Homo sapiens: one gene and its partners. The protein of the gene in region 1 interacts with the protein of each later gene in a pairwise test. Each region holds a gene or a part of one and is shown in the gene's direction. Other genes may lie near its edges. The genes, in order: LRIG3, LMO7 and LIMCH1.

Evidence for each region.
Region 2: the proteins of LRIG3 (region 1) and LMO7 interact in binary tests that used the Homo sapiens proteins (3 or more experiments, as listed by UniProt).
Region 3: the proteins of LRIG3 (region 1) and LIMCH1 interact in binary tests that used the Homo sapiens proteins (3 or more experiments, as listed by UniProt).

What each region holds. Positions count from the first base shown.
Region 1 is NC_000012.12:58,916,818-58,925,796, reverse strand, and holds the start of LRIG3 (leucine-rich repeats and immunoglobulin-like domains protein 3 isoform 2 precursor), read left to right. Parts: upstream 1-5,292; 5' UTR 5,293-5,561; coding exon 5,562-5,797; intron 5,798-6,291; exon of another isoform or gene 6,292-6,314; coding exon of another isoform or gene 6,315-6,370; intron 6,371-8,979. UniProt on the Homo sapiens protein: May play a role in craniofacial and inner ear morphogenesis during embryonic development. May act within the otic vesicle epithelium to control formation of the lateral semicircular canal in the inner ear, possibly by restricting the expression of NTN1.
Region 2 is NC_000013.11:75,639,330-75,646,329, forward strand, and holds part of LMO7 (LIM domain only protein 7), read left to right. Parts: intron 1-7,000.
Region 3 is NC_000004.12:41,645,672-41,653,951, forward strand, and holds part of LIMCH1 (LIM and calponin homology domains-containing protein 1), read left to right. Parts: intron 1-451; coding exon 452-609; intron 610-813; coding exon 814-1,222; intron 1,223-4,721; coding exon 4,722-4,937; intron 4,938-8,280.

The sequences.
Region 1 (8,979 bases):
AAATACAAAATAGCATATATTAATTTGCAGTTGAGATAACACTGTTTGTTTTCAATTCAAATAATATCACACAGTTGGCCAACTTGAGAAAAACAGATGGGTGGCTATCTTTATTTTTCTAAATATTTTCTGAAAGTTAAGACATGTTCATAGCAGGGGTTGTGTAAAGTAATCTGCTCTCTAAGTGAAGCTGTGCATTTTGTGTGTTTGTATGTGTGTGTGAGAGAGAGAGAGAGAAAGGAAGGTTATCTATTTCTTCTAAAATGCCTTAATGAATGGGAAAAGATATGGTTAAGTTACAAAGTACAGCAACATTTGCTTTTGGCATCATTATCTGGGGATTTTTGTGCTTTTCTTCCTCCTTTGCCTTATCTCTTTTCCCTTTTCACAGCTCCCACTTACACAAACTGTGTCATTCATTGTAATGATAAAGCAAGTACTGAGTGTTTAGCTTTCATTCTTGTCCTTGGATGTTAAAACTGACAGTTTAGCACCTCTATTACTTTTTATCGGTGAGTCACTGGCCTTGCCAGCACTCAAGATAAGAAAGTCTCACACTTGCCAGAGAAAGAAAAAAGACCAGGAAAACTAAAAAGAGCACTGGGATTGGGTTATGCTCACCACAAAATGGGTGGTAGGAGACCCTTTTGAAAATGGATGAAACTTGCCATTCACTGGGACACAGCTGGAAACGAGAAACTGTCTGGTGTGATCTCAGCAATTTCCAATGGAAAGCTAACTTCCAACTACCTGGTTAACCAGTGTAAACCTCTGAAGGAGTAGAGAAATCCAACATCTTATCTCATTTTATTTCAAATGTTAAAAGACCTCTGGTCAAAATGAATTTGACTTTCTCATACTAAATTCTTATTTGTAAGCCATTATCCACAAAAACTGAGATTCAACATTTGATAGCACTGTGTCCTCTGTGTGTGTGTGTGTGTGTGTGTGTGTGTGTGTATACAAGAAAATGACATCATAAGAGTATCAGAGAATTCAGTGATACATTAATCCTGTTTCTAGGTCACTGTTATTCCCTGATACATTTTGGGAGATTAAACAGAATTTTATGTACCTCTTCTTCCTCTATTACAACTATCTTTGCTGTCACTCTGCCTTCACGCCTATTTTCTATATACTGTAAAGGAATCAGAACAGAGCTGTAAGGGACCTCAAAAGATATTAGTTCTCATCTGCCCAGATGGATACCCAGTGGAAGTTCTCTCTGCCCTGTGGTTCATGAAAGGTTTGAGAAGCCTGTGAAAATATTACATTGATGTAAAGTTTCAGCCAGGCAGGTGGCTCATGCCTGTAATTCCAGCACTTTGGGATGCCGAAACGAGTAGATGGATTTCTTGAGCCCAGGAGTTCGAGACCAGACTGGACAACATGGTTAAACGCCATCTCTCTCTCTCTATATATATATATATCTATATATACATATATTAAAAATACAAAAATTAGACTGGTATGGTGGCATGCGCCTGTGGTCCCAGCTATTCAGGAGGCTGAAGTGGGAGGATCGCCTGAGCCCAGGAAGTTGAGGCTGCAGTGAGCCAATATCCCGCCACTGCATTTCAGCCTAGGTGACAGAGTGAGACCCTGTCTCAAAAAAATAAAAATAAAAAAATTAAGTTTTCATGTAGGACTAGTTCCCCTTTGTATTGACCACATGGTTAAGCACATATCGAAATGTAGAACAGTGATTTTTAATGTGCGCTGTATTCTTTCCATGTCATCCTCTTTTACTCTCTCAATGATCCCATTAAGTTCTGAGTAAGCTTAAGCCACACCCATAAAACGTCCTCTGTTGATTAATTCCCAAATACAATTAAAGTGGAACAAGATCTTACTTGCAAAGTAACCTTTCCAAAAAAATCTCCTAGATATTTGTAATCTCCTCCTCCCATATTTACAACTGTCTTATCTTCATCTAATTGGATAGCATTGTTTTATCGATTACCTTTAAAGAATCTTTCCCAACCTTCAAATTCATTATCATAGAAATAAAGGTATTTTCTTGTTGCACTTGTATTTGGTTTACACAATATTGTGTAACATTAATAATATATATAAACAAGTCTGTAACTACTGTGGATCAGCACCTGACAGGTAGGAGCAAATATGCAAAGGCTGTTCTAAGGAGAGGCTGGTAGTTTCTAGATTTCAGCTGGTCATAGGCATCAGTCAGGTTGTACAGAGAGAACAGAGTGACTGCTAATCCAGTAACTGATAAATGGAAGCCAGCCAGATAAGATCGTTTTTTATTGTATTCCCAATTTACAGACTGAGAAACTGGGGTACTGAAAACTTAGGTAATTTAACTTCACAATAGCTGGTAAAACCCTTAAAGGCGATAAGGAATACATGGTTATCGGAAAATTCTGTAGTATTACCTGGGGGTTAGAGTGAAAATGGTCTATTACATTCCAGTCAATACTGATGTGCTGGAAGTATACTGGAGGTATAGATAGTTAAACCTGACTCAGGGAAGTGTTTGCCAAAGAAGGAATGCCATCAACCAGGCAGAAGAAGGAGCAGAGAATGATTTGGACAGAAGAACCATTTGCAAGAGGGCTGAAGGCAAGAGTACAGCTGGGAAGAGAATTGCAAGTAGCTCCTAGAGTAGGAGAAAAATGATGAAAGACAATGAATTAAAGAGATAAATAGAGGCTCAATGCCAAAACAAACAAACAAAACTGTATAAGTCACTCTAAAGAATTTGAACCTTATTCTCAAGACACTAGGAACCCAAGAAAAGAACTGGTCAGTTGAGTCACAGGCTCAGATTTGACCTTCAGAGATATCACTTAACTGCCCTGAGGAGAAAGCAGTGGAATGCCTGATAGGTGGCAAGAGCTGCTGGTGGTCTGGATTTGCATAATTTCTACAGAGAGAAGATACATTTAGGAGCTAGCTTTAACATGACTTGCTAATTGATTGACTCTGGTGGTGGTGGTGGTGGTGGTGAGAATGAAGTAATGTTAAGGTGACTTTCAGGTTTCTGGGGCATTCATCTGGATGGAGGGAAGTATCCACTCTTTAAGACAGTGAATTCAGGAGGAAACAAGTCAGTTTCAAGGGTGGTGAAATTTAATTCTAGACATGTTACATTTGAACATCCAATTTTTAATGACCTGTGGGTAATTGCACATATGGATTTCGAGTTTAGGAAAAAGACCTGGGCTGAAATATGGATGTTGTATATGTCAGCATGTAAATGTAAATGGAATTCATGGAAGAAGATGAAATTATACAAGGAGAATAAAGAATGAGAAAAGGAAATGAGCCAAAACTCCCCAAAATGGTAGCACATTTATATCCCTGTCATATGTCTCATGTCTCAAGAGCAAGCCTCCATACTGATGTTACCTTGCTTATGCATAATGGCATGTGTACAATGGAATCTTTCTTCTTTTTAAAAACTTCAATGAATTATACCTAATTTTCCTTGTATGAAATAGATGGGGGGCCGGGTGTGGTGGCTCACGCCTGTAATCCCAACACTTTGGGAGGCCAAAGCGGGCGGATAGCCTGAGGTCAGGAGTTAGAAACCAGCTTGGCCAACATGGTGAAACCCTGTCTCCACTAAAAATACAAAAAAATTAGCCGGGTGTGGTGGTGGGCACCTGTAATCCCAGCTACTTGGGAGGCTGAAGCAGGATAATTGCTTGAACCCAGGGGGTAGAGGTTGCAGCGAGCCGACATCGCATCACTGCACCCCACTCCAGCCTGGGTGACAGACTGGAGTGTCTCCATCTCAAAAATAAAAAAATAAAAAAAATAAATAAAAATAGATGGGGGATACTGAGCTGGAAAATCCTTACTATGACTGTAGTGTGTTTTGTCTACTCCCAAGCAGACAAAATCATAAATTCAAAACCAAGGTGCCATCATTATAGATATTTTCTAATTATAATTATACATCATCCAAAAAGGTAGTAGCGTTGTTGTTAATGGTAGCTGGAAATAAGAAAATGGGATACCATATCTAAAATAGGGTGTGTTAACTTCAAAGTGAGTCTTTTCCTTCCCCCGTAAGTGGGAGTGATTTGCTACAGTGAAAAATCAATGGGCCTTAGAGTCAGGGTTAAAGTCTCAACTCCACAAGCTATCTCCACTCCTCAATCATGAGCAGTTTACGCAACTCCAAGGACAGACAAGCTTGGGCAGACAGCATGCAATAAACAATGTATAGAAGTGAAAACTTACTTTAAGCTTCCAGGGTTTGTTTTTTGGTTTGTTCATGTTTTCTGTCTTGCTTTTATTTTTATTTTTTTTGCAACAAACACATTAGTTACGTTCTCTAGGTCTATTTCCTTACCCAGAGGAGGAAGGCCCCTTAGCACATGATCTCTGCGGTCTCCATTAGTTTCAACATCTTGTGGCGCTGATCACCTGTAAGTTAAGGAACAAACTTCACTGGGAAGTCCTGTAGCCTGAATCCAGCCCCAAACATCCACTCCCCCAGCTGAGGAGGCCGGGAGGTACTTTTACCCTGGTAGCATTCTCAATCAACATGTGTCATTACTCAAAGCGCAAGTGGACCAAGGTGCATATACTAATTTTTTCCTCCAAGGTCTTAGTTTTCATTTTACTTTGAAATGTCACTGTGACTACTTTTATTATTACTATTACCAGGAATCTATGATTGCCATCGAGGTCTATTAGAAGGTCATCTCCCATCCCCCACCCCGCCCAGCTTTATCCAGTGCACGAAGGCTGGCTATTTGTAATTCAATATACACTTTCCAAAACCACGAGTTTTACGTTTTATTATTGTTTTTACTTTTGAAGCCGATGTATGGGGGAACACCCACCAGCATTAACGTTGAAAGAGCTGTTTTCATTGAAACCACTCTTTCATCTGTGGATGGTAGGATAATTTATCAGTGTCTTTAATTTGGAATTGAAAAGTTTCCTGAAAACACTGCTAATTAAACTTTACTTCCCTGAAGTTCTCCTAAATACCTCCAACTCCGAGAACTAGCCCAGTATTTGCTCACTTCCTTTTGCCTTTCAACTCCATTTGATATATGTTTCCCACGACGTAGTGGAGACTTCTGGCTGGAGAGGCTGGAAAATATAACTCTGAATTTCCTACAATCTCAGCTCCACTTTCTCCCGCGCGTAGGCCCCCGGCTGGAGCGGTGTTATTGTCACGTGGCCACGGGGACGCCCGCAGCCGAGTCGGCCAATGGGCGCGCGTCGGCCTCTACCCGCCCGCCTTGCTACTCCGCCGCGCGGGGACTTGGCGCAGTGCCGCGGGGTGGAGGCGAAAAAGTTTCTTTTGCAGACAAGAAGGGGCTTCGGCGAGCCGACGCTGCTCAAGCTGCAACTCTGTTGCAGTTGGCAGTTCTTTTCGGTTTCCCTCCTGCTGTTTGGGGGCATGAAAGGGCTTCGCCGCCGGGAGTAAAAGAAGGAATTGACCGGGCAGCGCGAGGGAGGAGCGCGCACGCGACCGCGAGGGCGGGCGTGCACCCTCGGCTGGAAGTTTGTGCCGGGCCCCGAGCGCGCGCCGGCTGGGAGCTTCGGGTAGAGACCTAGGCCGCTGGACCGCGATGAGCGCGCCGAGCCTCCGTGCGCGCGCCGCGGGGTTGGGGCTGCTGCTGTGCGCGGTGCTGGGGCGCGCTGGCCGGTCAGACAGCGGCGGTCGCGGGGAACTCGGGCAGCCCTCTGGGGTAGCCGCCGAGCGCCCATGCCCCACTACCTGCCGCTGCCTCGGGGACCTGCTGGACTGCAGTCGTAAGCGGCTAGCGCGTCTTCCCGAGCCACTCCCGTCCTGGGTCGCTCGGCTGTAAGTATTCTTCCCGCGGGGGGAGGGGGCCCGGGCCGCTGGAGATTCGAGAAAACAGGAGCCGGCGGGGAATGGGGTTCGGCGTGCAGTCCCCTTTTTGCCGTATAGCTCCTTCTGGCCCAGGCCGCGATCGGCGCTCCGTGGGCGTGGAAAAAGAACTGTCCGGGCCTCAGTTTCCCTCCCACGTGCTTTGCGGGCGGCGCAGGTGGGCTCTTGGCGCGTCCTAACTGGCTGCAGGTAGACCAGGGTTGGGGGCCAGTAACGACGCCAGAGATTGGGGATGAAGTCCTGCGCCCTAAGCTAGCCAAGGGGTTCAAATGCTTGCTCCTGCCAGGCCCAGGGGAGATAAGCGGCAACCTGCACACATCAGGAGTTTGCAGTTCTCGCTGAGTTATGAGTCTGGTTCAGTTTTAGTTTCTAGCTGCGTCAGACTCCTTTTCCTGTTCCCACCCAGTAACTGAAGTCAGGCTTTTCATTTGGGAAGCCCCCTCAACAGAATTCGGTCATTCTCCAAGTTATGGTGGACGTACTTCTGTTGTTCTCCCTCTGCTTGCTTTTTCACATTAGCAGACCGTAAGTTCCCACTCCTCAACCAGATTGTAAAGACTGGTCGGTAGCTATGGAAAGGGCGGAACTCGATTATCCAGAATCAAGGGCGTGATTTCTGTAGCTCCTCAGAACGCCCAGACGGTTTAGGGGAGAGCGCAGGGAGCTCTTATGCAAGTTTTTGGATTTTTAGCTGCGAAGTCTGAAAACCTGAAATCACTGCCAACTGCGTGAAGAACAAGGAAGAAAATGTAATTTAGTTGGAAATGCTGATCTTTTCCAAATGTCATCTCTTTTCTTCCTCAGTCCCAGTTTTAAAATTGGAGTGCTGTAAAAAGTAAACAATCAAAATTTGTATTTTTTAAAGTAGTTGTTCTGTTTAAAATAAAAGTGCACTTCATACGTAATCTTATATTTTGACTTAGCAGAATTGCAATGAAAATTTTAAGTTTTTAAAACAATTCTAGTGAACTATTCCAATGCCCTAATGTGGTAGGAGGTTTGGTCAGGTGTTTAAGAATTTATATTTTAAAATTATTGTGCTAATCTAAATAACTTTTGTGAATGTAGAATTGTTGGCCATCAGAAAGTATATTCCTTGTGTTTTTAATAAGCCTTAGTTTAATAAAGTAGAATTAGTATTGGATTGATATTTAATTTCTTGGGACGTTTTATTTAGTAGTTTTTATTGCAATTGGAAGAGGAGATAAGGTCTTTAACCGAAAGCAGGGAGACTTTCAATTAGTTGTGGCTAATTCTGTTAAATTGCCTCTTGTGGAGGTCATGCTGCCTTATTCATGAGTGAATGGCTCTATTGACAACATATGGAACTGAACATGTAAATGACTGGAGGTGAACACTTAGGAATAATAGAGGGATGAGAAAGAGAAAATGAATACAGTGCTTCCTGGAGTGTATTTAGATATGCTTAGATTATTCACGGCATCTAACTTGTATTCGATAGTTTTTCAATGTCAAGTTGTCTATTGTGATCATGCTAGTGTGCAGTACTTTTTTTCTTTTTTCCTGGATTTAGATGTTTAGAAAAAAAATCTGTGTTGCCCTTGATCAGAAGTTGAGTTGAACCAAAAGGGGTTCGATACCTATTTAAACATTGTCTTAAAAGTAGCTGACCTAATTAGGATTTTGTTTTGCAGATAATTTGGTGGCACACTAAAAACAAATTAGAGTTTATTTGGTTAGCACAGTCTTTAATTACATTTCCACCAGCAGTAAATTGTCTCAATACTAGCCCACATTCCTTAAATGTATGTGAAAATAAGTTCCACTTGTATAAATAAGCACTCAGTCTGTTGTCAGGAACCCTGCTGTGATCACTTATTGGACAGCTCTGTCATTCCTGTACTTCTGTGACTTTTAACCATCTTTGTAGGTGTCACCAAACCATGTGGTCTGGATTCTTTATTGTAAATATTTCTTTTGTTTGTACCTAAAGCTCTAGAGGTCTCCTCTTTCCACTTTTGAAAGGAGCAGAAAAACACGTGGAATTGAGTTTTACTTTCTCTGTTATTTGGTATTTTAGAATAGGTGGTCTAAAAAGCTACTAAAGTTTTTCGTAATTAGAAAAATCGTCTTAAGGAGATGATTTCCGAGTTCAGATATAAATAGAAAAATGCATGTTTTTGTTCCCCATATCTTACCTTCCCTTTCCTTGGGTAATCAAAATAGTAGGAGTTTGTCTTTGGACTGGCTTATGAAAGCACTTTTCAGAAAAAGTTCAGTGTCTATCTTTTGTTTCATTTGTTGAATTTGCAAGTTTAAGAAAAATTACGTGTGTATGTATTTTTTCCACTTTATTTGGTTGTGATTTATTACTATAGGAGTCCCATGTGTGAAAAGTCGAATAGTTTGAGCTGTAAAATAATAATACTGTATCAGTACTCCTTTTAGAAAATAACCTCTAATGCTTTAATGAAAGTGGCTCTTAAAGAGTAACTATGTGAGCGAGACTTTGTCTAAAAAAAAACAACCCAGTAACTACGCCAAGCCTTGCTCACAACTGCCATTAAAGGCAAGCTAGAGTTTATGTCAAGAGTTTGCGCTTAAACAGTTCTCAACCTAAAGAGGAATGCTTGTTAGAATGTTATTTAGCCCAGAGACGGAAAAGTTGCTAAATTGCCAATGAGAACTTCCAGTATTATTAAATTCTCACTGGCATTTCAGAATTATTTGTCTTATGTAGAAATGTTTGAGTTCTCAACAGGACCCAGGCGAAAGTCCCAAAGGTAGTTTCTGCTGGTGTGACTTCTTTAGTGTTGACCTGTTATAAATCTTATGGTCCGGACCACAGTTGGGGGTGGGGTGGGGGTAATAGTCCTTATGGTTTTCACAGCTGTTTTTCTGTATTTTCCAGACTAAAACTTGAATATAGCAGGCTGATTTATGAGTCACTTTGGATCAGTGTCTTAAAACAGCTATAGCCTGGCTTTTTGTTTTTCAGCTTTCCAGATTTGTGCTGAATTAGCAGCTCTGCAGGCCCCAGTGGGATTGCTTAAGAAGCTGTGCTGGATTTGCATTTAAAATTTGACTTGGAAGTCAGATTTCCAAATGCTAAAAGGAAGAAAATGACAGCTTGAACCAAATGTTGCAAATTGATTATTTTCATATATATTTAT
Region 2 (7,000 bases), on another chromosome or scaffold:
GGTGTGTCTACTCATGCTAATTTTGCAATTCAAAGCAAATGTAGGAAAGCTACCCTTTAAGATCGCTCAACATAATGATATTGGATTATTACATAGTTGGAAAGGCTGTTTGATACATTAATAATGTAGCAGGGCTGGTTTATGATTAAACACTGGTTTAAAACCAAGTAATGGTTTCAAGGCAAAGGCAGAGGAGAAGCTTGATTCTAGCAAGGCTACGCAGTGGCTGATGAAGTGGTGGAAAATACAGCCTGGACTCTAATTTTAGGCCTCTTCTGCAGTACCTTTTAATTTTCTATGCCTAATAGTTGCCTTTGTCTCTCTGTTGTGGGTCATCCGAAAGCCATGTGGTAAACAGACAAAATACTAATGAGATTGAAACTGGGGTATGTAGCACTTTGCATTGGTTGGTCAGTTTTTTAGTCTGTAAGTTAATGTTGCTCTCTAGATTGAGGTTCAAATACAATAGTAATTTTTATGGCTGGAGCAGAACAGGCTAACTTAATTCACCACCTTTCTGCTCACCTGCCCTTCCTGTTATCTCTGGATTGGATTTTTTCAGTATTGCTGTCACCCTGTAAGGGATGCCAACCTGAGCTCATTGCCAAGTCTGGCACTAGAATATGAGTCCTTCCTCACTTCTAATTGGTCTGTTTCTCCACCTGCCCCAAGTTTTATCCTTCGGGGATGTGCTGTTCACCACCTTTTAACTTTTTTGCCTTTGGTGCTAATGGAAGTATTTTTAGTAATTATATATAATTTCAATCAACAGATATTAAGACACTATGGTAAATATTTGTTAAAAATTGTAGTGTTACAAAGCAATTCTTATGCTAGCTGCAGCAGCTAGCATAAGAATTGCTTTGTAATACAATTTTTAACAAAGATTTACCATAGTGATTACAGGTGTGAGCCACCGCACCTGGCCTGGGCTCTGCTATTTAAATCCTGTAGGTCTCAGTTTTTTCCTCTTAATCTCCCCTGGTAGTTGTACCAGTTAAATGGATGCTGATGGTAGAGCAACAAATGCTCCCTAATCCATTGCTTGTGTTTCTCCTTGCACAGAATGCAGTTTTGTCACCTCCATGTTTTCGTATGAATGGAATACTTGTTATTCCTTGTAACCTAGTGAACACCTCTTCATTCTTCCATACTTGAGCTAAAATCAACCTTTATGTGAAGCCTTCCCAAAATCGCCAAACCTCCAGCCCCACCCATTCCTTTCTCTCCTGTCTTACATAAATCTCTCTTTTTGCATTGTGTGGTTCTATTCGTTTTTCTATATTAGTCTATGAGCTAACTGAGGGCAGGAATCGTATCTTATTTATTGCTTGAGTGTTTGGCATGGTGCCTGCTAAATGCTTGTTGAATAAAAGTACAAATAAAGTTATAGCTTTAACAACATTAAAAAATAGGATTTTAAGGACCAGAACTCATTTCTTCTTCCAGCAGAAACTTGCTTCAGTGTCTTAAGCTTTATTGGTTGCAGTTGTTTGGTTGGAACCTGCTACAGGATGTGTCTTCATCTGCATGCCAGTGTGTACTTGTTTATTTACTTAGCATTTCCTCTTCTGCCTCAACCCTCTTCCCGAGTCACCTTACTCTACTGCCGTCCACTTGATGATTTCCCTCATGGGGACTTACATTTAGTCATCTCAAAAATACCTACTATGTGCCTACTGTGTGCCAGAAACTTGACGGGTTTATAGATTCAGTCACCAAATTCTTAGCCCTTACCTGGACCTTCAAAGAGAGGCAGCCTCCATGAAAAGCAGATGTGCAGACAAACCCAGCAGTGCCATCAGGTACTGAAGTTCATCCGGTGCATCGTGATGGCATTGAGGAGGCAGCCTGAGTCCACCTGGTCAGTCAGGGCAAGCACACAGAGAAGGCAGCATTTGAGCCGAGGCTGCAGTGGGGTTAACCCATCTGCCCACTAGGCTGGAACATTTTGGCCTTTTTTAACTTGTCGTGTGTGAAATCTTGAAGTTGCAGACAGCATAGCTTCCAGAAGTTGCTCAGAGTAATTTATTCTTACTGAAGTACCTTACTGAGGTAACGTTTTACCTGCAGTGAAATGCACTGATTTTAAGTATACCATTGTAGGAGTTTTGTCAGACCTATATGCCCAAGTCACCAGAACCCAATCAAGATACAGAATGCTTTTTATCACTCAAGAGAGTTCCTTCCAGAGAGCACATTAATCTCCATTTCTTTGGTAAGCATCCACTCTTTGATTTCTAGTACTATGGATTTCTCAAGGTAGGTTTGAATGGCCAAGAAATGTCTTAATGCCTATTTGTTTCTTTTTTCCTCTCACTTTTTCTTTTACTTTTGTTTTCTGAGACAGGAACTCACTCTGTTGCCCAGGCTGGAGTGCAGTGCTGTGATCTTGGCTCACTGCAACCTTCGCCTCCTGGATTTAAGTGATTCTCCTGTCTCAGCCTCCCGAGTAGCTGGGAGTGTACCACCATGCCTGGCTAACTTTTGTATTTCTTTTTTTTTTTTTTGGTAGAGACAGGGTTTCACTGTATTGCTCAGGCTGGTCTCAAACTCCTGGCCTCAAGTGATCTGCCAGCCTTGGCCTCCTAAAGTGCTGGGATTACAGGGCGTGAGCCACCACACCCGGCCCCATTTTTTTCTTTATGCAGTGTTTTATAATTTCTTGAACACAGCATCTTTATATGGGAAATAAGAAAGGATCCTAGAAAAGAGAGGGGTGGCAAGAGATGAGGGAATTAATGAAGTCCTCTTGGGAAGGAACTGATTTACACAAATAGGAACCAGGGCAGGAATGCCGTTAGAATAGCCTGACTCCAGGAAGTGTAAACAGATATGTCAAAGTATTTCCTGAGGAACTGGGAGGGTTCCAGTGCAGTGTCAATCATTCTGGATTCTTCCAACGTACTGATGCACTGAAAGCTAGAAATGGACTTCTTTCATAAAGTGAGGAAAAATACAAAGAACTTGTACCTTTAGTAAAACAGGGTGTCAGCCAGACATGGTGGCTCATGCCTGTAATCCCAGCACTTTGGGAGGCTAAGGAGGGAGGATGGCTTGAGGCCAGGAATTTAAGACCAGCCTAGTCAACATAGCAAGACCCCATCTCTACCAAAAAAAAAAAAAAAAAAAAAAAGGTGGCACACACCTGCATTCTTGGCTGCTTGGGAGGCTGAGGTGGGAGGATCGCCTGAGTCTGGGCAGTTGAGGTTGTGGTGAGCCGTAACTGTGCCACTGCACTCCAGCCTGGGTGACAGAGTAAGACTCTATCTTTAAAAAGTAAATAAATAAATAAATAAATAGAGTATTCTTGAACCAGTTAGAGAAGTGGACCCACTGGGTGAAAAAAACGGTTCTTGATACACATTATAAAGATACCCTCTAAAACCTTTGTGGCAGTTTGCAGAATGAGCAGGGGTTGAGGGCACCATTTTCTCCACATTCTGGCCCAAATTAGAAATTGTTATTTGTATTTTCCCTCTAAATGAACAGATGAAAGACATGTTGTCCTATTTTTTCTCAGATTATTAGTGATATTAAACATTTATGTAACAAATGACCCATTGGGTTTCCTCCAGTGAGGAAGGATGAAGCTGAGAAAAGGAGGGTTCTATTTCCTCTTAAGCCACAAAAGGTTCAATGAAGTCACAATTGGCCCTTGCGAAGAAGCCTTGAAACCTTGGTGTTTCTTAAGCCATTTGTAAAGCACAAATCCTTAAAACTTCTCCTAGGCTTAGAGAAAGAGGAATGGTGTCCTGGATTGGACCCCAGGGAGTATGCCGATTTATTCAATCTGTGTTGGTTCTTGTCTTTCGGTGCATTGCTCTAGCTCTCTTTCTCTCTGGATGCCGAGAGTGCTTTGGGTAGTGAGGGACTGCTGTTGAGACTAAACACTCCTTCACCTTCCCTCTTCCTGTTAAGACTGGTTCTCAACATACCAGCATTTGAGTTATAGAAACACACTAGCTTTGTGAATGCTAGTTAAGAAAAGCAAAGTGACATCAACATATTTGCCCAATCCTTTTAGTTTGGAAGAAATACACCTTGCAGGTGAACTCGTTCTTCTAGTTAGCATCTGCTGATTGAGTTGTTTATGTTGTTCCTGTTCCCCAGAGTTCCTGACAGAATGTTCCCAAATACTTGTTGAATGAATGAATGTTTTGTGTCCAATAAAAAGGTTGGCCTATTTAATTGATGTTTCCAGATCTCCTTAAGCCTGTTAACTATCAAAAATGTGTTAGAGCCTGAGGAAATGAGGAATTATGCATACCTGTACTTAACTCTTTAGTTTCAGAAGGTATTAAATAATTATTGGTTGTATATCTTTGAAAACATGTTTGATGTAGTCAAAGCTCTTAATAGGGATAATAGCTGTCATATATGCACAACTTTGAAACAGAGGTTTAACACATTCAATCTGTGGCTTTGCTTAAAGAGATGGACAATAGCAAGTTCTACTCTGGTGAATTACAGCACAGTCCCATGAACAGCCTTTCCAAAGATTATGAAATACCCCAGTAGTATGCTCAAAGACTGGTTCTCATTACTGGGTACAGAATGCTCAGTTTGGTGCTTGAGTGCATTTTTATGTTGGTATACAGCACCTGACCCTCTGTCTGTCTTCAAGCATAATGGGGATTGTCATGTAGGAGAGATTAGGAAATTTTTGTATGGATTCAGAGGGCAGAACTGGTAATAACTGGTCACAGTGAGACTTTTGACTCAGTATTCTGAAGATCTTTCTATGAATATAGCAGTGCCCTACACTACATGAGCTGACTTGAATAGCGAGTTACCTGCTAGTGAAGTGTTTTTTTTTTAAGAGAAGCTGAAAAAATGACAATAAAAGCAGCTAGTATTCTTGAATTTCTACCACATGCATGACATGTGGCAAGTGCATTATACCCACATATCTTATAATGGACTATTCTTACTGAGGATGTTCTTTTCCAATGAGGGAAAAGAGGGGTGAGAGGTAAAATAATTTACTCAAGGAAACACTAGAAGTAGTAAATGCTGGCTGAGGATCCGAATGCCCACAGCCTGCCATCTTAGTCATTATACTCTGCTGCCTGGGAGTGGCGCTGGCCAGGTAGTTCATCATTGTTAAGGAATTAAGAATCAGAAAAGAATGGGCTCTCCGTCCTTGTTCCACCTAAAGCTGTAAGATTAGCTATTTTTTGTACATGACAAATCCTATACAACTTCCGCTCACCAGCACAAGTTATTTCTTGTGATGTTAGTGCCGTATTAGTACATGATCATCAAATATATGTAAGTTACAGAATTGCCAACAGATATATTTTTTTCTTTTTTAGAGACAGGGTCTTGCTCTGTTGCCCAGGCTGGAGTGCAGTGGTATGATCATAGCTCACTGCAGCCTTGAACTCCCGTGCTCAAGCTGTCTTCCTGCCTCAGCCTCTGGAACAGCTGGGAGACTATAGGCACACACCACCACACCCAGATAATTTAAAAATTTTGTTGTAGGGACAAGGTCTCGCTTTGTTTCCTAAGCTGGCCTTGAACTCCTGGCTTCAAGCGATCCTCCCACCTTGGCCTCCCAACCTGTTGGGATTACAGGTGTGAGCCACCATGCCCAGCCAGATGGACACTGTTGAGCAATTGCCGACTTTAGGTTTATATATTTGAATGTATGTTAGTGATTGTTAATGTTCAATAAACCATTTAAAGTGTTAAAAAAGGAAACATTTTAATATAACATTGAGTTATACTTTGAGCTAGAATAGGAAATAGATATCTAAGTAGTTTCTTCTATAATTTATAAAAGTATCATCTTCTCTCATGTGACCTACATTTCTGTAGTTCGTGCATACCAGAAATTGTACAGATGGTTATTGTATAGTGCTTCAAAAATACATGTCATGTTTTTGATTAGGATACTTTTTAGTTAGTGTTTTAGGCTTGTTAGTACCAAAGCTGGGACCCTGATAAAATTTTTTTGCCTCCTTGACTAGATTGAAATTTGATCTAGATGTGTGAACAGGGAAAGAAATATCTGAGTTATTTTGTTATACCACCATTTCATAACATTCAAAGGAAGGGAGGTCATTGCCAGTCTCATTATAAACTTTCATTCTGGCTTGACCCAGAAGTTTGAGGCTGCGGTGAGCTATGATTGTACCACTGCACTCTAGCCTGTATGACAGAGCGAGACCCTATCTCAAAAATAAATAAATAAATAAAATTAAATAAATAAAGGAAGTTCATTGTGGAATTAGTTTTTCTCATGAGATTTAATGTTTTAATGTTTTTCATTTTACATGAAGAAGGGGACAATAAGCAAACGTATTGCCTCTGGACCAGTATCAAATGCATTTGGAATTTACCCTGTGTTATGAAGAAAATATTGTCAGTCTATCAAAAGCATCAGATAGAGTTGGTGATGACTTCCTTCTCAAACCCTTCATTGCCCTCTAGGTTTTTCTTCCATTTCACTTGGTGTTTCTAATTTTTCTGTGCTCAGTCCTCCTAATTATTGTTCATCAGTGAATGTTAGAACATCCAAGGACTCATCTTCCATGTCTTCTTTTCTTTGCCTACAGTATCTTTCTAGCAGATGTTATCAAGTTCATATATCTTCTCCACGCTGATTGCTTCCATATTTACATTCCTGACCCTGACCTTGTCCCTAAATTTTAGTAACTACTTGAGATTTCCCACTGTAGGTCTGATAAGCATGTCACGCTCAGTGGGTTCTAAGCAAAACTCTTAGTACTACCCCTTTCCCACCCCTTCCTAATCATCTCCTCATCTCTCCAATGTTTCTATCTTAGCAAATGGCATCATTGTTCAGCCAGTTGCTCAGGCTTCCAAATTTGAAGTCATTATTGACTCTTGTTCTTTTTTAACATCATACCACACATCCAATCTGTGAAGAAATCCAACAGGCTATATCTTCAAATGGATCCAGAATCTGACCACCTCTTGCCACATCCACCATCACCTTTCACCTATGCTGTTGCAGTAGCCTGGACTCCTT
Region 3 (8,280 bases), on another chromosome or scaffold:
TCTAAAGACTCCAAAACAGTTTTTTTTCTGCCTTGACTGCCTTCCATGTGGAAACTGTAAATGAATCCCTACTATTCTATTGTCAGCAAATCTGTTCACAATGCAGAGGTTATAAATAGGAAGGAATGAAGTTTCTTACAGTTACCTTGTGAGGCAATTCTCTGAAATTTGGCAACTGACATGAAATGTGATTGCATATTTCACACTGCCATATTTAAATAAATGTGCAGCCCTGCTATGGATACTGTAGATAATATCTGGATGTTTCTGCCTTTGAGGCATTCCAGTTCCAACCAGACTTACATTGGATTGTGTGGGAATGCACACGATGTTATAGTGCCTGGGCCCATAGTCAGTTCTCTAAAGAGTAGAAATGACTAAACTCTGAAGAATAGAAATGGAATTATGCACAAGTCTGAAGAAGAATATTATATCTTTCTTTCCCTGCCAGGACCTGGCTCGTTGGAAGAGTCGTAGAAGAAGTGTTTCTCAGGACTTAATCAAGAAAGAGGAAGAAAGGAAAAAAATGGAGAAGTTACTGGCTGGAGAAGATGGGACAAGTGAACGAAGGAAAAGCATCAAAACCTACAGAGAAATTGTTCAAGAAAAGTGAGTTCTTTCTGTTGTCGTTTTTAATGTACAATATTATCTAGGTGTTTTTTTTTTCTAAAAATTATTGGCTGTCACAAAGGTTCTGATAGTAACATTTTATATTCCCTGTACTATCTCTTCAGTGCTACCTTCGTTTCTACCAAGGTCTTCTTTGCAATTTTCATTAGTTGACTTTGTTATTGCTTCTCCCATGTCCTTTAGAGAGCGGAGAGAGAGAGAGCTGCATGAAGCATATAAGAACGCTCGGTCCCAGGAGGAGGCAGAGGGGATCCTTCAACAGTACATTGAGAGGTTCACCATCAGTGAGGCTGTTCTCGAACGCTTGGAGATGCCAAAAATTCTGGAAAGAAGCCATTCAACAGAGCCAAATTTATCCTCCTTCCTGAATGACCCCAATCCCATGAAATACCTGCGGCAACAGTCACTGCCTCCACCCAAATTCACTGCCACTGTTGAAACCACCATTGCTCGTGCCAGTGTTCTGGATACCAGCATGTCAGCAGGCAGTGGGTCTCCAAGCAAAACTGTCACTCCCAAAGCAGTGCCTATGCTGACACCCAAGCCTTACTCCCAGCCCAAAAATTCTCAAGATGTTCTGAAGACCTTTAAGGTAGGACAAGTTCCTTAAGAGTAGAACCAAAGCTGAACTCCAGGGAGTGGATGGAAAGAAGCATCATGACTCAAGAAAATGTCATTCTTTTTACCATACAAAAGAAAAATGTGTTGACATTTACAGCTGTGAAAGTCATAGGTCTCTGGAGATTTGGTTTGTAAATGCTTCAGGGACAGCTGTTTCCCTCAATTGCTGTTGTTAATACAGATGGACTCCTATAAGACTGATAGTGGAGTCGTCTCCATGAGCAAGGTCTATTTTCTAGTTTGATATAATGGCATGATTTCTCTGTACTAGTGGTAAAAACCCTAATTTAGTAATACCCTAGTATTTCTAGGTATCAGGAGGTATGGCAGACTCCTCAAAACAAAATTTTATTTGCTTTTGGTTCAAATAGAAGTATATGCAGCTACCTCTCTTTTAGGAAGAAATTGGCATTCAGCATCCATTTGACATTGTAGCATCCAAAAAGATTTTACAATTGATAAAAATACAAGGAACACATGGGAACATGGGACATACTTGGTCCTCAAATGAGACAGGTTTTTTAAACAAGTGGAAAGAAACTGGGTTGTTTTGCTAATGAGTGTGTAAAATAGTGTTCCAGACTGAAGAACTTGTGGAAACCAAACATCTTTTCGCTTCCTCAAATTCAAGTACTTTCTCTTATATCAGGAGGAAGCACTCATCCTTTGTCTTAAGTTCTTTTGACTTGTAAAGAAAAATCAGTTCCCCTTGTCCTTGCACTCAATGAGTTTGTAATAAACAGAGGTGGAATGCATCACTTGGAGATGTGACCATTAGATAGAAAAGTTTTCGTAACTGATTGAGCAGTGTGATGCCACGTAGCTTCCTTGCTGTATTTCAAAGAGAACAAAACCACACTTTCTGACTTTTGCTGAAATAACTCTGAATGTATCTCAAAAATCTCTATCTTAGGCTTTGATAGAACAAAAATGTCCAGACTGTCTCATCTGGATCACATTGAGCTGTTTGTCCCCTTATAAGGGCAGGGGCCATGTCTCTGTCATTCATGGCTTCATCCTGAGAGCCTGGCACAGGTGCCCAGGACAGAGTAGGCACTCAGCAAGTGCTCCTTAAATAAATAAGTGAATTTTTCCTGAGAAGATGAGCTACTAATCATATGGACTCACACACACACAGATAGACACACACATGCTCATGTGTGCTCAGTGGTCCACCTAAGTGTTTCAGAAGCTTTCCTTCACCTAGGGCCTATGATAATGAATGGCTATGGTATTTCCTGAAGGAAGATTCTATGTTGAGGTGGCCCAGAATAGGATAGAGAATACATTTATTTAACTGGATTTCCAAGGCATCTGACCAAACATTCTAGATGTCCACTTTCCCTCCTTTATCTAAATAGTGCAAAGTGATCGTTTAAACAGAAGGATTAGCATAAATGATTTTATGGCAGAACTTCAGCTCTGAGAAAACTCTGTTCTTCACCATGGCGGCAAAGTGGAGCAAGGTGGTATGGCGGCCTCAGGAAGCACTTCCATGGAGGGGGTTATTAGAGAATTTGAGCAGAGGCCCTCTTAGAGCTGGAGATTACTCCTCATCACTCACTAGTGGGGGTCCCCTGCCTCATTGTAGGCCTCACTGGCTAGTATTTCTACTGATGGCCTACAGTTCCATTACTGAGTGCATGGACAGCAACTTTGGTCAAAGGTCAAAGTAACATGCAAATCAGACCGTTGTTACCAGCTAATAATGCCAGGACAGAAGCTAAGGGGTAGGGGTGTGTGTGTGTGTGTGTGTGTGTGTGTGTGTGTGTGTGTGTCTTCTTGGAGGGCAGGGCAGGGAATACAGGCCCCGTTGTTTTTCCAGTACAACAGAATTAAGAATAAAGGAAGATCAAGAGAAATAGTTTAAGGCAGTGTTTTTCAAACTGAAAGTTACCACCCGTTGCTAGGTTATAAAATCAGTTTAGTGGTTTGAAGCCAATATAAAAAAAAAAGAACTAGAATAGAATATAATAAAAAAACATAGTGTGTCACACAATGAAGGCAAAATTGCTTGGGGCAACTTCTGTTTCAGTTATATTTATGTGTGTGTGTGTGTGCTGAGTTGTGATTTAAATTTCTTTTTATGGGTAACAAATAATAGAGTAAAAAGACCAGTGGCTTAAGGTAAATAAACTATAACTAATATCCAGCCTTCCATTATTTCTTTTAAAAGATTTTAAAAGGCCTAATGAGGCTGGGCGAGGTGGCTCACACCTGTAATGCCAGCACTTTGGGAGGCCGAGGCAGGCAGATCACTTGAGACCAGGAGTTCGAGACCAGTCTGGACAACATGATGAAACCCTGTCTCTACTAAAAATACAAAAATTAACCAGCCATGTTGGCATACGCCTGTAATCCCATCTACTTGGGAGGCTGAGGCATGAGAATTGCTTGAACCAGGAAGGTGGAGGCTGCAGTGAGCTGAGATTACACCACTCCACTCCAGCCTGGGTGACAGAGTGAGACCCCGTCTCAAAAAATAAATAAATACATAAATAAGAGGCCTAATGATAATAATGGCTAATAGTTAAGCACTTAAAATGTGTCAGGTACTGTTCTAAATTCTGTACATTTGATAATCCATAAAATCTCCATAACAGCACTATGAGGAAGATACTGTTACTTTAAATTTTGCATCAGAGCACAGAGAATAGGAAACCTGTTGAAGATTCCATGCCTGTTAAATGGTAGAGCCAGGTTTCAATCAGGTCACCTAACTGCACAGCTCCCTCTCAAAACCACTCTACTTTCTGCCTCAAATTTCAAGACCGAGATTTCCAGATGCCTTTCAGTAAGCCAGGCTAACCGCCCTCTCTGGTTTCCCTTTCTTGCTCCAACTGCCTCCCCTCGATGTGAGTGCAAAACAAAAATATTTTAATGTGCATGGTCTTTTTTTCTTTAAAAAATGGAGGTTATAAAAGTAACTAGAAATAGAGATTCACTGTAACAGAGCATAGTCTCAGATCCCTTGCCCTCTGCCTTAGCTTCAAAAAAAGTATCTGTTTCCCCTGCTACCACCATGGGATAAGCTGTAAAATATTCCTGATCTGTGGTAAGTTCCGCCTCATTTATATGCTATCCAGAAAAACAGTCAAGGTTGTGGAATAGCAATCAGAACTGAAGTGAAACAGTATTGGAACCCCAATATGTGGCATGTATTTGTACTTAAGATTCTTCGGTTTTCTGTACTTTAAAATAAAAGCAGACCATAAATGAGGTGAACATGAAATGGAATCTATAGTGAAGTGGCCCAAGCAGGCCAACTACCTTTTAAGGAGGCCCTCAAAGATAGCATTTATAGAAGCCCTAACTCATAGATCCCATCAGAACATTTAAGAGACCTCTTCCTTCATTGGACTCTGGTTATTAAATGATGATCTTTTGAGGTAATTCTGAACGTGTCGTTTTGTTACAGTCTTTGATTGGGGTATATATAGCATGTTTTTTGTTCATTCTGGCTTTTATAGGTAGACGGGAAAGTCAGTGTGAATGGAGAGACGGTTCATAGAGAGGAGGAGAAGGAAAGAGAGTGTCCCACGGTGGCACCTGCCCACTCCTTAACCAAATCCCAGATGTTTGAAGGTGTGGCCAGAGTGCACGGGTCTCCACTGGAGCTGAAACAAGACAACGGTAGCATCGAGATCAACATAAAGAAGCCAAACTCTGTTCCCCAAGAGCTCGCAGTAAGAACCAAACATTTCCCCGCCTCCCTTTGGGATAATTCCATGGTGAAAGAATCTGTTTTTAAAAATAAGTAGGTCATGATAATGACCATTTCTTTCTATGTTGGCGTATTAGTTTGCTAGGGCTGCTGTAAGTACCACAAACTCAGTGGCTTAAACAACAGAAACTGTCTCACAGTCCTGGTAGCTAGAAGTCCAAAACCAAGGTGTTGGCAGGGTTGGCTCCCTCCATTGGTCATGAGAGAGCATCTGTTCCAGGTCTCTCTCCTAGCCTCTGGTGGCTGCTGGCAATCTTGATGTTCCTGGGCTTATGGATGTGTCATCCCCCTCTCTGCCTTTGTCTTCACTGGTGTTCTCCCTGTGGATGTGTCTGTATTCAGATTTCCCTATTTTATTTTATTTTATTTTATTTTTCGAGATGGAAATTCGCTCTTTTTGCCTAGGCTGGAGTGTAATGGTGCGATCTTGGCTCACTGCAACCTCTGCCTCCAGGCTTCAAGCAATTCTCCTGCCTCATCCTCCCAAGTAACTGGGACTACAGGCATGCACAAGTGCACCCAGCTAATTTTGTATTTTTAGTAGAGACAGGTTTCACCATGTTGGCCAGGCTGGTCTTGAGCTCCTGACCTCAAGTGATCCACCCACCTCAGCCTCCCAAAAGTGCTGGGATTACAGGCATGAGCTACCACACCCAGCCTAATTTCCCCTTTTTAGAAGAACACCAGTCATACTGAGTAGGTCCACCCTTCTCCCTTGTGACCTCATCTTAACTAATCACATCTGCAGCAGCCCTATTTCCAAAGGTCACTTTCTGAGTAGTAAGGGTTAGGACTTCAATAATATGAATTTTGGGAGACACAATTCAACCTGTATCATTGGTATAATGGAAGGTATTACAATTTATGAGCCAGAAATTACTTTTTCTTGTCTCACTATTGGTGTCCAGTGTTATAGAAGAATAAGTAAATCTTTAAAATACCTTTTCCCCCCCTGTTTATTTAGGACCTCATTAGACTTGTTAATGCCATTTGAAAATAACTGGTGCTATCAGAATCTAGCTTTCCATCCCCGGCGATGTATATATAAAAGGGCCTTTTTCTTATTAGTTAAAGAAACAAAAATTCATTTAAAAGCTGAAAGTAATGTAAAGCATCAGAGTACTATTGAATGGCAAAGCTAAAAAATGTATGCTAATTCAGGTACTGCAGAAAAGTGAACTCAAAATAACATGATATTTGTTTCTTTGGAGTAGAAGACATCATTGGGAAAATTGCACTTTCTTCCATCTCTCACCAGAAAGACTCATGCTGGTTTCACTAATCTAACCGAAACTGTCACTACACAGATGCAGCCCTGCTTTCGGGGTACGGGCTGGACTCTGTTCAACCTCATTTGTACTCACCAGAGGCTGAGTTTCTGCTGTTCTAATTTATAGCATTTGGGTTTATATTATAGTTACAAGAAGGGAAAAACTATCAAGATATTTTCCCCCAGGACCTAGAAAGGTTTGGTGTGAAAGGAAACTTCTTCCGGCACCAAGGGAGCTGAGCGTTGTGTGACCCAGCTAGCTAAAACCCACCTAGAAGGCTGGATATCATTATTTTTTTCCTTTATGATTAGTCTTTTGAAGACTAAAATTATTTTTTTTTTCAGAGGAGTTGAGAAGATATAATTCTTCCACGCAGTACCCAAGTGCTCTGTGAAAGAGATTCAAATGGGAGTAGACCAAAATCATTTTCTCACCATGGTAACACGTTTCCTAGTCTCTAGGAGCAGAGTTTTGTGATCCAGGCCACTGCGGAGTCTCTCCTGAACTTGGACTTCCTGGACTTCCATTTTACTTGTCATTTGCATACGTCTTACCTCTGCTAGAGATTTCTTGCAGATGATCACGAGACAGAATATTGAGTTCTGCTAGCAGTGTGAGAACTTAACTGATAGAGTAAACATTAACTTATGCTGTTAAAATTAAACTAGAAGACCCCAAATTAATTAGACATAGGGGTGGCATTGCTTTTCAGGGACAATTAATAATTCTGTTCTTATTTCTCTTTTGCCATTTTTCATGATGATCGTTTTCTAAATTCCCTTCATTAAAAAGATTTCACATTGATTACATATCCCCCAAAGTAACTTGTTTTAAGAGAAGCAAAATTACACGATCTGAAAGAAACTATGCTATTTCAAAAGTTTATACATGATCACATGGAGAAGGATGGCCTTCAGGACTTTCTTCCTAGAAACCAGCCTGATCCTGGTTGCCTAAGGATGCAGGTCTAAACTCAGAAAAGCCTGGGAGTCTTTTCCTTTTGTGTATTTCTTCCTTGGAGAAATTGCCTAGTTCAGAGTAATTTCTAGGTCAGTGAACCCTAATGTTTCTGAACAGGTAGTAGTATTTATGGACCCTGTCTATAGTACTTTAGGCTTTTGAATCAACTATGGCAGGGGGTATTGCATTACTTTCTGTGTGGGAAAATCTCTGTATATATCTGTCAGACTATAAGCTAAGTTGTTAGCTGTACTACATAGGACTGTGGCTCATTACTCAAATACTCATCATACTCACATGCAACTTAGGATACCACAAGTTTTCCATTCAGAGTGTGTTATCCCAAGAGTCATTTTAAAAGAATCACTTCTCCAGTAAACCTACTCCCCATTTTACTTCTTTGTGCATGATTCCAAGCAAAGCATTTCTTGACTGTGTTACAGCCGGTATACTCCTGTTAAAAAAAAAAAAAAAGGAATTAATTGGTCATGGCAAAATATGGTGACCAGCTTAGAACAGGAGGCTGCACTTCAGGGCCTCCCAGAGACTGACACCAGCTTGGACTTCATTTTCTGTTTCTAATTCACTTGCCTGATTCTGTGGGGCTGTCAAAAGATTAGTGTTCTTCTTTTTAAATAGTGTCTTTCTTCCAAAAACTGCATTCCCAACAGATACACTCTCTACAGAGGAGTAGCTTCACCCACCACTAAAATGTCACAATTCCTTTAGGGTGAGCTAGAACTGTTCAAAGGGCACAGCAGCAGCAGTAGGCAGGAGCATGAATTCAGGAATGGAGGGAGAACAACAGAGAAGGGCGGCCCGAGACCTGCTGGGGGAAGGGATTGCGTGTGGAGCGTCAGCATCTGGGCCCGGGACGGGCACTATGGATGACATCATATCATCTCTTTGGTTTCCTTCTACCTCATCTTTCTCATTTGAAACTCTTGGGACTGTCACTCTCTTACTTTAGAACTAGGTCCTAAATTAAGTTAGGAATTTTAAAAAATGCTTTGTCTGTACCTCCTCATGCCAGATAATTCCCAGTCATCTTCAGTTGAATCACCTTTATGGTAA